Linked DNA regions of Homo sapiens. The protein of the gene in region 2 interacts with the protein of the main gene of each other region in a pairwise test. Each region holds a gene or a part of one and is shown on either strand. Other genes may lie near its edges.

Region 1 (3,751 bases), on a different chromosome or scaffold from region 2:
ACACATTCCCAACAATTTCTGTAAAACTTTCAATGATCTTATTCTCTATAACTAGATATGTGGGCCAAGAATCCCAACACGTTTGCCCCTTAACTTTGAAGCTGGCAATATGAATTACCAGGGTGACCCCTCCCAGTAGAGCACATGATCAGCCACAGCTGTGCATGTTTTTTAGTATGACTGCACTAGGATAGGGCTCCAAGCCACTGGGTGGAGCAATGTGCTCTGGGGAGAAAGCTCATGACATTTCCCCTATGATTTCACAAAAGAAAAAATCTTTTTCTTATGAGTTGTTTCTGCTCAACGTCAATAGGAAAGGTCATAGCTTAGCGTGTTTACATACAGATGCATGCATGAATATGTAGAATATCAGCCACTCCTACGGTGTGAGAGAATTTAAATTGCACTGGTCCTAAGAGTGAAGGAAAGCAGGCGTAGTTGCCTACTCAACCTCCACTTTATTCTTTTCCCTTTATAACAATCCTAATTTCATTTGAGATGACAATGTATACAGCTAGAAGACAATTTCTCAGCCTCCCTTGGAGAGCTAGGTTCCAGCCAATGAGATGTAAACAGAAATGTATGCAATGTTCAAGTAGGCTGCTTAAAAGAAGTTGACTCCACTTGAAAGGTGTGCTTGGTTTGGCCTGCCTTCTCCCTTCCTCTGGTTGAATGTCATCTTGATGACTGGAGCTCCAGGAGCCATCCTGGAATTTCTGACCTTGAGGGTGGAAGCCACAGGCTAATATGATAGAAGGATGAGGAAGAGGCTGAGTACCAGATGGCTGAGAAGCCACTATACCAGCCCTAGTTTCGAGTTTACACTGCTTCTGTGAAAGAAAAGTCAATCACAATAAAACCTTTTATCTTGTTTAAACCACCTTAAAAAGTCAGTTTTCTTTTATATGCAGCCTACTAATCCTATCCAAACAAGGCTTGAATAAGGTTTACTACAGCTCTTTTTTGTTGTAATAGCAGAAAAATTGGTAATAAATGCCCATCAATAGGAAAATAAACTATTAATTTAACAATACCAAATAAAACTGTGCAGCAGTATAAAGAATGAAGCGTTTTTTGTTGTTGTTTTTGAGATGCGGGTCTTGCTTTATTGCCCAGTCTGGTCTCAAACTCCTAAACTCAAATTATCGTCCTACCTCAGCCTCCCAAAGTGCTGGGATTATAAAGGCTTAAGCCACCGTGCGGCCTTTGGTTTTTTTTGTTTTTTGTTTTTTAAGGTCTTATGTAATTAAACATTTTAAAGACATCAGCTGATGAGCCGTTTAAAACAAGAAGAATCTCAAAGCATCTTTGGCCAAAATCTTTTTAAGAAACAAAAAGTAGCGTGATTCAGCCTTGAAAAGGATTAGTTAGAGCCTACAGTATTAGGTTGAAATCAAAGAAAGGCAAGCTTTTTTTTTTTTGGATGAATAGTAATGATCTTTTTGGAAAAAAAAAACAAATATTGAAAGCTGGTTGAACTGAATCCTCTTTATTGATGAGGAAAGCAGTGGACTCGAACTATTTATGACTTTCTGAAAAAAGTTGCCCTACCTGCCACTCACTTCTTTTTAACTGGCTGTTCTCAAAGGAAATTGCAAGAGACTGAGGATAAACGTCCGACATCCAGAAATGGGCTTTTTTAGAGCCGAGGCAGCCTCCAGAACTTCCAGTTCCAATTTATTTCACAGGCGAGAAACTGAGGTCAACAGGGACGTTGGTTAGTGGTTCCTGGAGGCCCTGAAGGAACTTTTGGACCTGGCTTGTGCGTTCCAGAGAAAAAGGTCGGCCTCTGACGGAAAACGAAAAATGAGCACTCAGGGACCCACCCAGCCGGGACAGAGCGCCTCAGCCGGACCAAGAGGAGGAGCCAGTGGGGCGGGGCCAAAATGGCGGAGGGGCGGGGCTTCCAGAGGCGGGGGTTAGGAAATGGTACGGGGCGGGGCCCGGTAGGCTAGCGAGGGCCGGGAGGCGGGGCCTCGGAAAGGCGGACAGGAAGGCGTGTGCAAGGCGGGGTCCGGCCCGCGCAGGTCGGGTAAGCGCGTCTAGGGCGCTGCGCGGCGCAGCGAAAATGGCGGCTTCCAGGTGGGCGCGCAAGGCCGTGGTCCTGCTTTGTGCCTCTGACCTGCTGCTGCTGCTGCTACTGCTACCACCGCCTGGGTCCTGCGCGGCCGAAGGCTCGCCCGGGACGCCCGACGAGTCTACCCCACCTCCCCGGAAGAAGAAGAAGGATATTCGCGATTACAATGATGCAGACATGGCGCGTCTTCTGGAGCAATGGGAGGTCCGCGGCGCGCGCACACCCTCCCGGCTCTTCTCTGTGCGGGACCCTGTTCCCTATGACCCCTTACCTGTTCTGTCTTGGGACCTTTCTGACCCCCTAACCTCCTCTACTCATGCCTTGAATCCTTACTGACCCACTGAAGCCACTGTTGACCCTCCATTCCTCCTCTGACCCGCGCGCCCTGCTGACCCTCGCTCCAGCCCTCTGTCATTCCAGTGCCCTGTTCCTCCTGCCATTTCTCAAACCACTTCAATCACGGATCTGCCCCTCACTGTTCAGCTTTGCTCTCCCTTCACCCTTCAGTGCCCTGGTTGTCTTTGCGTTGATTCTTGTGGTCAGTGAGCCCTGCAAACAGGGAGAGTGACCTTTCCCAATCTACTAAAGAGCATTTCCTTCTGTTTTGCGGTGAGTGGGTGGGAGAGTGGGTTGCAGTGAAGATGGTCTTCCTTAATGGTTATCTCAGCTGTCTTCTAAATCAGTATAATTTTAGACTTCCTATTTTGGTATATGTCCCTGCTGGGAATTTTGTGCTTTTTGTGGGTGGATTTATTTTACTGAGGGGAGAAGTATCAATGGCTAATGGCTCTGTATCGTGAAACTCACGCTTTTTGTTCAAAGGAGAGTAAGTTTTCTGGTTTGTCACTTGGACGCACCGGAGTGTGCAGTTACAGGGAGTGTGTAATACGCTTTAAGGTAAAGATTACTGGCCAAAACCACATTGCTGCCTTTTCCCCTTCCTAAGGTGATTGTATCGTCCTGGTTGACTTGCATAGCTGTGGAACCTTGGGCAGGTTATGTCTAGTTTCTAGGCCTCGGTTTCTTTATCTGCAACATGAGGAGGTTAGGATGGGTCCTAAGATTCCTTCCAACACTGATGTTTTGTTATTTTGTGATTATCTCTGTGTGTGTTACGGGAGAAGGGAAAGACTTTCAGACAAGAGTTTAAAATACCACCTGATGCATCTGACTAGAAGAATGCAGGCTTGTGTTTTCATGTGGTCATCAACAGCTGATGGAAAGATTGGGATAGATTTGAGTGTAGAGAGAACGTCCCCATTCACCGTCTCCCTTGCAATCTCCTTGTCTCTTTTTGGACTCCAGCAAATAAAGCCTTTTGATCTGCCAGAGTGAGAACATCACCTCATGAGAAATCCTCCCCTTGACCTACTCAGACCCTGAGCTAGACGAAGAGGGTGCTGAAGAGATGAACAAAGATTGCACTGGGAACAGTAGATAACAGGATGGATGAGTGGGGAGAGACTTTGAAGGCCAAGAAAAACACATTATCTCATTTAATCCTTTTACCCCATCCATGAGGGAGGTACTTATCCCTATTTTCTAGATGATGACATTGAGACACAAAGAGGTTAAATAACTTGCTCCACATCGCACAGCAAGCTAGCTGAGTTTCAAATTCTTTCGCGACTTTTAGAGCCAGTTCTTTGAACTGTTTTACCTGTACTGCCACAC
Region 2 (3,751 bases):
CCAGAAAAACTTTTTTTTTTTTTTTTTTGAGATGGAATCTCACTTTGTCACCCAGGCTGGAGTGCAGTCACTCAATCTCAGCATCTCGCTCACTGCAACCTCCACCTCCCAGGTTCAAGTAATTCTCCTGCCTCAGCCTCCAGAGTAGCTGGGATTACAGGCACCCGCCACCAGGCCTGGCTAATTTCTGTATTTTTTAGTAGAGACTGGGTTTCGCCATGTTGGCCAGCTGGTCTTGAGCTCCTGACCTTAGGTGATCTGCCCGCCTTGGCCTCCCAAAGTGCTGGGATTACAGGCGTGAGCCACCGTGCCTGGCCATAGGTATCACTTTCTTTACGGCCCAGAACAAATAGCCCTCCTAAACAAATAATGTACATAACTCACAAATTTCTTGCTTACCATCAAAAACCTTGATTTATCAAACATTTCAGGTGACAAAACAATGCAAGTTCCCAAGTTGCATTCTATAAAATCTCTAGCAAACCTTTGTTTCTTTGCAGCCGGCTCCCTTCTGCTGGTTCTGCCTGTTGCCTTCTTGCAAGGTACTTTCATATTTTCCTTAATAAATCTGCCTTTTTTTTTTTTTTTTTTTTTTTTTTTACCTACAACTGTCTTGGTAAATCCCTTTTTTTTTTTTTTTTTTTTTTTGAGATGGAGTCTTGCTCTGTTGCCCAGGCTGGAGTGCAGTGGCACAATCTCGACTCACTGCAGCCTTTGCCTCCCGATTCTCCAGCGATTCTCCTGCCTCAGCCTCCTGGGTAGTTGGGATTACAGGCGCCCACCACCAAGCCCGGCTAATTTTTGTATTTTTAGTAGAGATGGGGTTTCGCCACATTGGCCAGGCTGGTTTCAAACTCCTGACCTCAGGTGATCCGCCCGCCTCGGTCTCCCAAAGTGCTGGGATTACAGGTGTGAGCCACATCGCCCGGCCAGTCTTGATAAATTCTTTTACCCTTGCGCCACTGGCCCAGATAGTAGCCACTCACCCACAACATAGATGAAGACTCCCACAGAGAGAATGGATGCAAAATGCTTCTTTTAAGAATTTCTGGCCGGGCACGGTTGCTCACGCCTGTAATCCCAGCACTTTGGGAGGCCGAGACGGGCGGATCACGAGGTCAGGAGATCGAGACCATCGTGGCTAACACGGTGAAACCCCGTCTCTACTAAAAGCACAAAAAATTAGCCAGGCATGGTGGCAGGCGCCTGTGGTCCCAGCTACTCGGGAGGCTGAGACAGGAGAATGGCGTGAACCCGGGAGGCGGAGCTTGCGGTGAGCCGAGATCGCGTCACTCACTCCAGCCTGGGCAACAGAGCAAGACACCATCTCAAAAAAAAAAAAAAAAAAAAGCAAAACCAGAATTTCTTACTTATTTTGTTTTTTGGTCTCACTCTGTTGCCCAGGCTGGAGTGTACTGGTGCAATCACAGCTCACTGCAGCCCTCGACTCCTGGGCCAAAGTGATTCTCCTGCCCTGGCCTCCTAAAGTGCTGGTATTACAGGCCCCAGCCACCTTGCCTGGCCTCTTTCCAGACTTTTTTTGTTTTTGTTTTTTTTGAGACGGAGTTTCATTCTTGTTGCCCAGGCTGGAGTCCAGTGGCATGATCTCGGCTCACTGCAACCTCCGCCTCCCAGCTTCAAGTGATTCTCCTGCCTCAGCCTCCCACATAGCTAGGATTACAGGCGTCCGCCACCACGACTGGCTAATATTTTGTATTTTAGTAGAGATGTGGTTTCACCATGTTGGCCAGGCTGGTCTCGAACTCCCGACCACAGGTGATATACCCGCCTCGGCCTCCCAAAGTGCTGAAATTACAGGCGTGAGCCGCCGCGCCCGGCTTTCCAGACTTTTAAAAGTGTCAGACTCTCAATTTCTCCCGGATCAGGGAAAGGGAAAAGGGGAGAGGGGGCATGGCTTCACTAATGGAAATACTCCATAGACGCAAATTTCACCCCCCAGAAGACAGTTGTGCAAGGGCAAAGCTGCAGCCATTCGAAATTGCCAAATAAATATATTTTGGAATAAAATATTTTAATTGCTTTCACCTCTATTAAACATAGAGTCTGGAACTCCCTGCACACACTTATGACACTGTGCAGGACGAAGAAGCAGGGACAGACCATTGACAGAGCCACTTCTAGTAATTAAGACGAGCAAGTTTGGCCGAAATGCAAATTTTCAAAGAGCAGGGCGTAGAGAGGGAACTTGACCTTGGACTGTGGCTTGAAGCGGTCAGTCCTGCTCTGCTTGGCCCTGTTACCCAGGACTTCTGCTGTCACTCAGGATGCAGGGGGCGGGGCCTGGCGCTCCACCCAATCAGAGTCGCCGGGGTGGGGCCCGGCCAACTGTTTATCCGCGGGTCACATTGCCGTTCGCCTCAGTCTTTGGCCCCTCCCGCCGGGTGAGGTTGGCACCCCGTTTTTCCTGCTCTGAGAGGGACCGGTTGCCACCGCCATACTTCTGTCGCCCTGTCGTCTGTGTTGTGACTGCTTTGGACGTGGGAGTCACCTGAAAGCCAGGAAATGGTGAGTGTGAGCCCCCGCTGGGAGTCCCGAGACTTGGGGGAGGGTAGGCGGAGGCTGGTTGGAACTGGCTGGAACCGGCTGTGCCGGGACCCGGACCTCCCCGCGGCGACTCGAGGTCTGGGGCCCGAGCCCCGCTGGCGCAGCTCGGCCTTCGGTCCATTCGGCCGCCGGGTGCGGCTGGGCCGGCAGCCGGGACCCCTGGGCGCCCTGTCTCGTCGCCGCGCGGCGACTGCGGCCCCAGCCCGGGAGCCCTCTCTGGACAGCTCCGCGCCCGCAGCCCGGAGCCTCTCCATATTGTGCGGGGCCACGGGAGGGTCATGGGGGCAATCCCGCCTTGGGTGTGGGGCTCGTGCGGGAGGAGCTGCGCTGTGAGGCCCTCAGTGCCCCCTTTCTCCTGTTAAAACTTAAACAGGCCCGGTGCTGGGAATAGAGGCGTGAGCCACCGCGCCTGGCCTAGCGTGGAGAACTTGTGACAGCGGATAAATGTTTTCCCTGCTGTCTGTGGCTTAGAGCTTGGCAACTGCTGTCGTGTTTTTGTTCACATCATGATCAATGTGTACTAGATGCTTTGTTGTTGTAATCGCCTGAGGGGTTCTTCCTGCCTGTGCTGCAAAAAGAAAGACCAGGGCATTGCAGTAAAGAAAATGTTTGACACGAGATGGACCACGCAACGCCGAAGACGGAGACAGAGTTAGCACTCAAATCAGTCTCCCCGAAGGCTTATAGTTAGGGATTTTTCTTTAATATTTTTTTCTTACAATTTTTTTTTTTTTTTTTAAGACAGAGTCTCGCTCTTTTTTGCCCAGGCTGGAGTGCAATGACACGATCTGGGCTCAGTGCAACCTCTGCCTCCCGGATTCAAGCGATTCTTCTGCTCAGCTTCCCTAGTAGCTGGGGTTACAGGCACGCCACCACGCCCTGCTGATTTCTGTATTTTCAGTAAAGACGGGGTTTCACCGTGTTGGCCAAGGTGGTCTTGAACTCCTGACCTCAGGTGATCCGCCCGCATCGGCCTCCTAAAGGGCTAGGATTACAGGCGTGAGCCACCTGGCCCGGCTAAAAATTGTTTTTTAAACAAGGTCTCACTCTGTCGCCCAGGTTGGAGTGCATGGCGCGATCACGGCTCACTGCATCCTGGACCCACCTGAGCAGCAGCTCAGGTGATTGTGCTGCCTCACCCTCCCGAGTAGCTGGGACTACAGGCGCAGGCGGCTAATTTTTGTAT
Region 3 (3,751 bases), on a different chromosome or scaffold from region 2:
CCTCCTGGGTTCAAGTGATTCTCCTGCCTTGGCCTCCCAAGTAGCTGGGATTACAGGTGTGTGCCACCACACCCAGCTAATTTTGTATTTTTAGTAGAAATGGGGTTTCACCATGTTGGTCAGGCCAGTCTCAAACTCCTGACCTCAGGTGATCCACCCACCTCAGCCTCCCAAAGTGCTGAGAGTACAGGCATGAGCCACCATGCCCAGCCTACAATGTTTGTTTCTAAAAAGCATTTAAAGCAACTTACCATAAAAGCACAGATTTAATAACACCTAAAATGTAAAACTTGAATAGGGAAAAATGAGATCTAGAAATCCCTGCCAAGAACAGTACAGCGGTTTTTTATATCACGTTGAGCGCCTGTTATGTGTCATGTGTTATTCTGGATGCTGGGAGCACAGTGGTAAGACAAAGCCCCTACCTTCAATGAGATTATATTCTTGAGGAGAAGAAGGATAATAAACAACAAAAAAGCCACACAAGTATTTTCGTTGCTGATTAGCACTCTGTGGAAAACAAACATAAAAAATAATAGCTAACCTTTATTGAGTACTTACTACGTGCATTTTTAAAGTACATTAATTTAAACTTCACAACATCTTTATGATGAGGTAGTTGTTATTTGCCCCCTCTTACATATGGGTCACTTACCCAGTGGCTGAACTGGATTTGAATACAGTAGTTCAGCTCAAGAGCCGTTAATCATGATGTCATATTATCTCTTAAAAATTAAGAAATGTGCACGACTGAAAACCTTACTGAGTGTGGAAGAAGATATGGGTAAATATCATGGTAAATACTATGATTCTGAATGGGAAGACTTAATTTTCTTACAATATCCATTCTCCCCAAGTCAATCTGTAATTTCAACTTCTAATAAAAATCCTAATAGGATTTAAAAAATTGATATGTTGATATTAAAATTATTTTGGAATAGTAAATGTGCAAGAACAGCTGAGAAAAATTTGAAATGGGCTAATAACAAGAGGGATCTTTGCCTTTTGAGATCTCAAAATATATTTTAACATTATAATAAAGTAGCATACTTCTGATAGAATAGGCTAATAGTTCAATGGAACTGAAATATATTCATATATTTAGGGAATTTAGTTTATAGTTATAGTGCTATTTCAGATGAGATGAGTTTTCCCTAAATGATACTAGGACAATTGGCTCTCCATTTGGAGGAAAAAATTTAGATATGTATCTTATAGACAACTATAATTTCTAGGTGAATTAAATGATCTAAATGTAAAAAAATCAGAAAAATACTAGGAGAAAGTATGGGAAACATTATGACATTAAGATGGAAAAGCCAAAGGTTCTCCTACCGAAACACAGTGTTTACAAGATGAATGTCACGCTGAGAGATAGAACATCTATAAGAGAAAGGGTGAACATCCAGAATGTATAGAGTTCTTACAAATTGATTACAGGAAAGACAAACCAGTAGAGAAATGTACAAAGACTAAACAGCTGATTTTCAGAAGAGATTCAAATGACTAGTTACTATGGAAATAGAAACTAAAAAACGTGACTATCAAATTGTCAAAAAAAAAAAAGATAATATCTAATATTATCAAGGGCACCACCGCATAGATTGCTGATATTAGCACAGGCTTTTTAGAGAGCATTTTGGCAGTGTCTGTTAAGGTGAAAAAAATGGGCATATGTTCTGACCCAGCAGTTCTATTTTTAGGAATCTCTTTTCCAGAAATACTTGTCTAGATGTTTAAGAGTATATGTCCTTGTAGCATTACTTATAATGGCGAAAAATTTGATATAATGTAAATATCCACCAATTGGACAGTGGTTTAGCCTATTTATGGTATCTATACTTTATCCATAGTTTGAAGTAGTTTGTTGATATTGTATTGAGTGTTACACTACTTTGTAACATCAACAACAAAACCCAAATGTAAAGGGAACTGCAAGTGTAATCACTCAGCTTTTATTTTTCTCTAGCTATACCAAATGGTTTTGGTACCAGTCCACTAACTCCCTCTGCTAGGATATCAGCACTAAACATCGTGGGGGATCTCTTACGGAAAGTAGGGGTAAGTTTCAATTATTTATCACTAGGTGTTTCCACTGACAAGGTATTGAATTATTTCTTAATTTGAAGTGAGGGAAGAAAGAAAGGATACTTTCCTGTGGTAAAGGCTGTCATGAAGCTCAGAAGCAAAAGCATCCATTGACTAGCCAAGTCCAGATGACACTTCATGATGCCCCTGCAGAAGAGCCTGTACCTTGAACTCTGAGGTTCCCACCGGGGCATTCTTCCTGTTCCCCACTCCTGTTTCAACAGCACGATGCCTCTGTCCTTGTCTAGAATACTTTGTCTAAGGCCTGCTGTGTGTCTTCTACCACCCTCATCCTGGTCTTTGCTGCTGTCTACCGTCTTCCTGGTCATTCCTTTGTTTTGTGTTTGTGGGACTTTAACATTTGGCTCATGGCATTACTCTCTACTTTTAGTCTTGCCCACCTTATTTCCTTGGCCACCTCAACTTCAGTGCCTTCTCCTTGGTGTGAGCCTTGTATTCCAGAACAGTTTCGCTTCTGAAATATTAAACCCAGCCGGACGCGGTGGCTCACGCCTGTAATCCCAGCACTTTGGGAGGCTGAGGCGGGTGGATCACCTGAGGTCAGGAGTTCAAGACCAGCCTGGCCAACATGGTGAAACCCTGTCTCTACTAAAAATACAAAAATTAGTCGGCATGGTGGCAGATGCCTGTAATCCCAGCTACTTGGGAGGCTGAGGCAAGAGAATCACTTGAACCCAGGAGGCGGAGGTTGCAGTGAGCCGAGATCGAGCCACTGCACTCCAGCCTGGGCAACAGACAGCAAGACTCCATCTCAAAAAAAAAAAAAAAAAAAAAATTAAACCCGTTTTTCTGCTTAATCAGTGTGTTACTGTGTACCATACCTACTCTTTAACCTCATCAAGAGTATTACCCCATTTTTTAGTGTGTTTGTTTTTATCAGCCATCTCTTGCTTTCACTTCCTTTCTATTCATCTGTGATCTCACACATCTCTTACTCTGTCACTGTTGACTTCATGGTCTCTCTGGCCACAAAGGAGATCTGCAGTCTGAATTACTGGAAACAGTTGCAGAACCATGTGGATTTATGCCACTATCAAGTCAGCATTTCTAGCATTAGCTCCCATTACTATTTCCCTTAGTGAGTTTTACCTCTCCTTTCAGTAATCAACCATTGCCATTTCCCACTATCTACTACCCCCTTCACTTATTTTCGTGTGTGACACTTTCTAAAAAATGTAGAAATTGCATTATACTTTATCTAAAGCAGATATGGGAGGCCAAGACACAGGTCCTATGTTTGCCTGTTTCAGCTCATCATAGGGGTTATTTTCTAACCATCAGATTAAACCTGCATTTTTAAGGTTAAAATACAAAGTAAAGTGCACAGGTCGTTCCTACAGTACATAGAGTAATCTTTCTTCACTCCCAAGATAACCATTTTAAAATCCTCTATGTTGGAGTATTTGTCTTTATAACTTGAAATCATGTGCTTATTTTTCTGTTTATCTTGATTTACTCAACTTTAAGCAAAGATATTTTTATTTTTATTTTTTGTTCTTTTAAAAAAATTACTTTAACATTCTTGAACTTTTGTTTCTGAATGTATTAGGTTATATCTTTTTTTTTTTTTTTTTTTTTTTGAGAACGGAGTCTCGCTTTGTTGCCAAGGCTGGAGTGCAGCGGCACGATCTCAGCTCACTGC

The links.
Region 1: the proteins of ZNF844 (region 2) and MESD interact in binary tests that used the Homo sapiens proteins (3 or more experiments, as listed by UniProt).
Region 3: the proteins of ZNF844 (region 2) and NDEL1 interact in binary tests that used the Homo sapiens proteins (3 or more experiments, as listed by UniProt).

What each region holds. Positions count from the first base shown.
Region 1 is NC_000015.10:80,988,109-80,991,859, reverse strand, and holds the start of MESD (LRP chaperone MESD precursor), read left to right. Parts: upstream 1-2,040; 5' UTR 2,041-2,068; coding exon 2,069-2,281; intron 2,282-3,751. UniProt on the Homo sapiens protein: Chaperone specifically assisting the folding of beta-propeller/EGF modules within the family of low-density lipoprotein receptors (LDLRs).
Region 2 is NC_000019.10:12,062,351-12,066,101, forward strand, and holds the start of ZNF844 (zinc finger protein 844), read left to right. Parts: upstream 1-2,380; 5' UTR 2,381-2,523; coding exon 2,524-2,526; intron 2,527-3,751. UniProt on the Homo sapiens protein: May be involved in transcriptional regulation.
Region 3 is NC_000017.11:8,452,827-8,456,577, forward strand, and holds part of NDEL1 (nuclear distribution protein nudE-like 1), read left to right. Parts: intron 1-1,969; coding exon 1,970-2,061; intron 2,062-3,751. UniProt on the Homo sapiens protein: Required for organization of the cellular microtubule array and microtubule anchoring at the centrosome. May regulate microtubule organization at least in part by targeting the microtubule severing protein KATNA1 to the centrosome.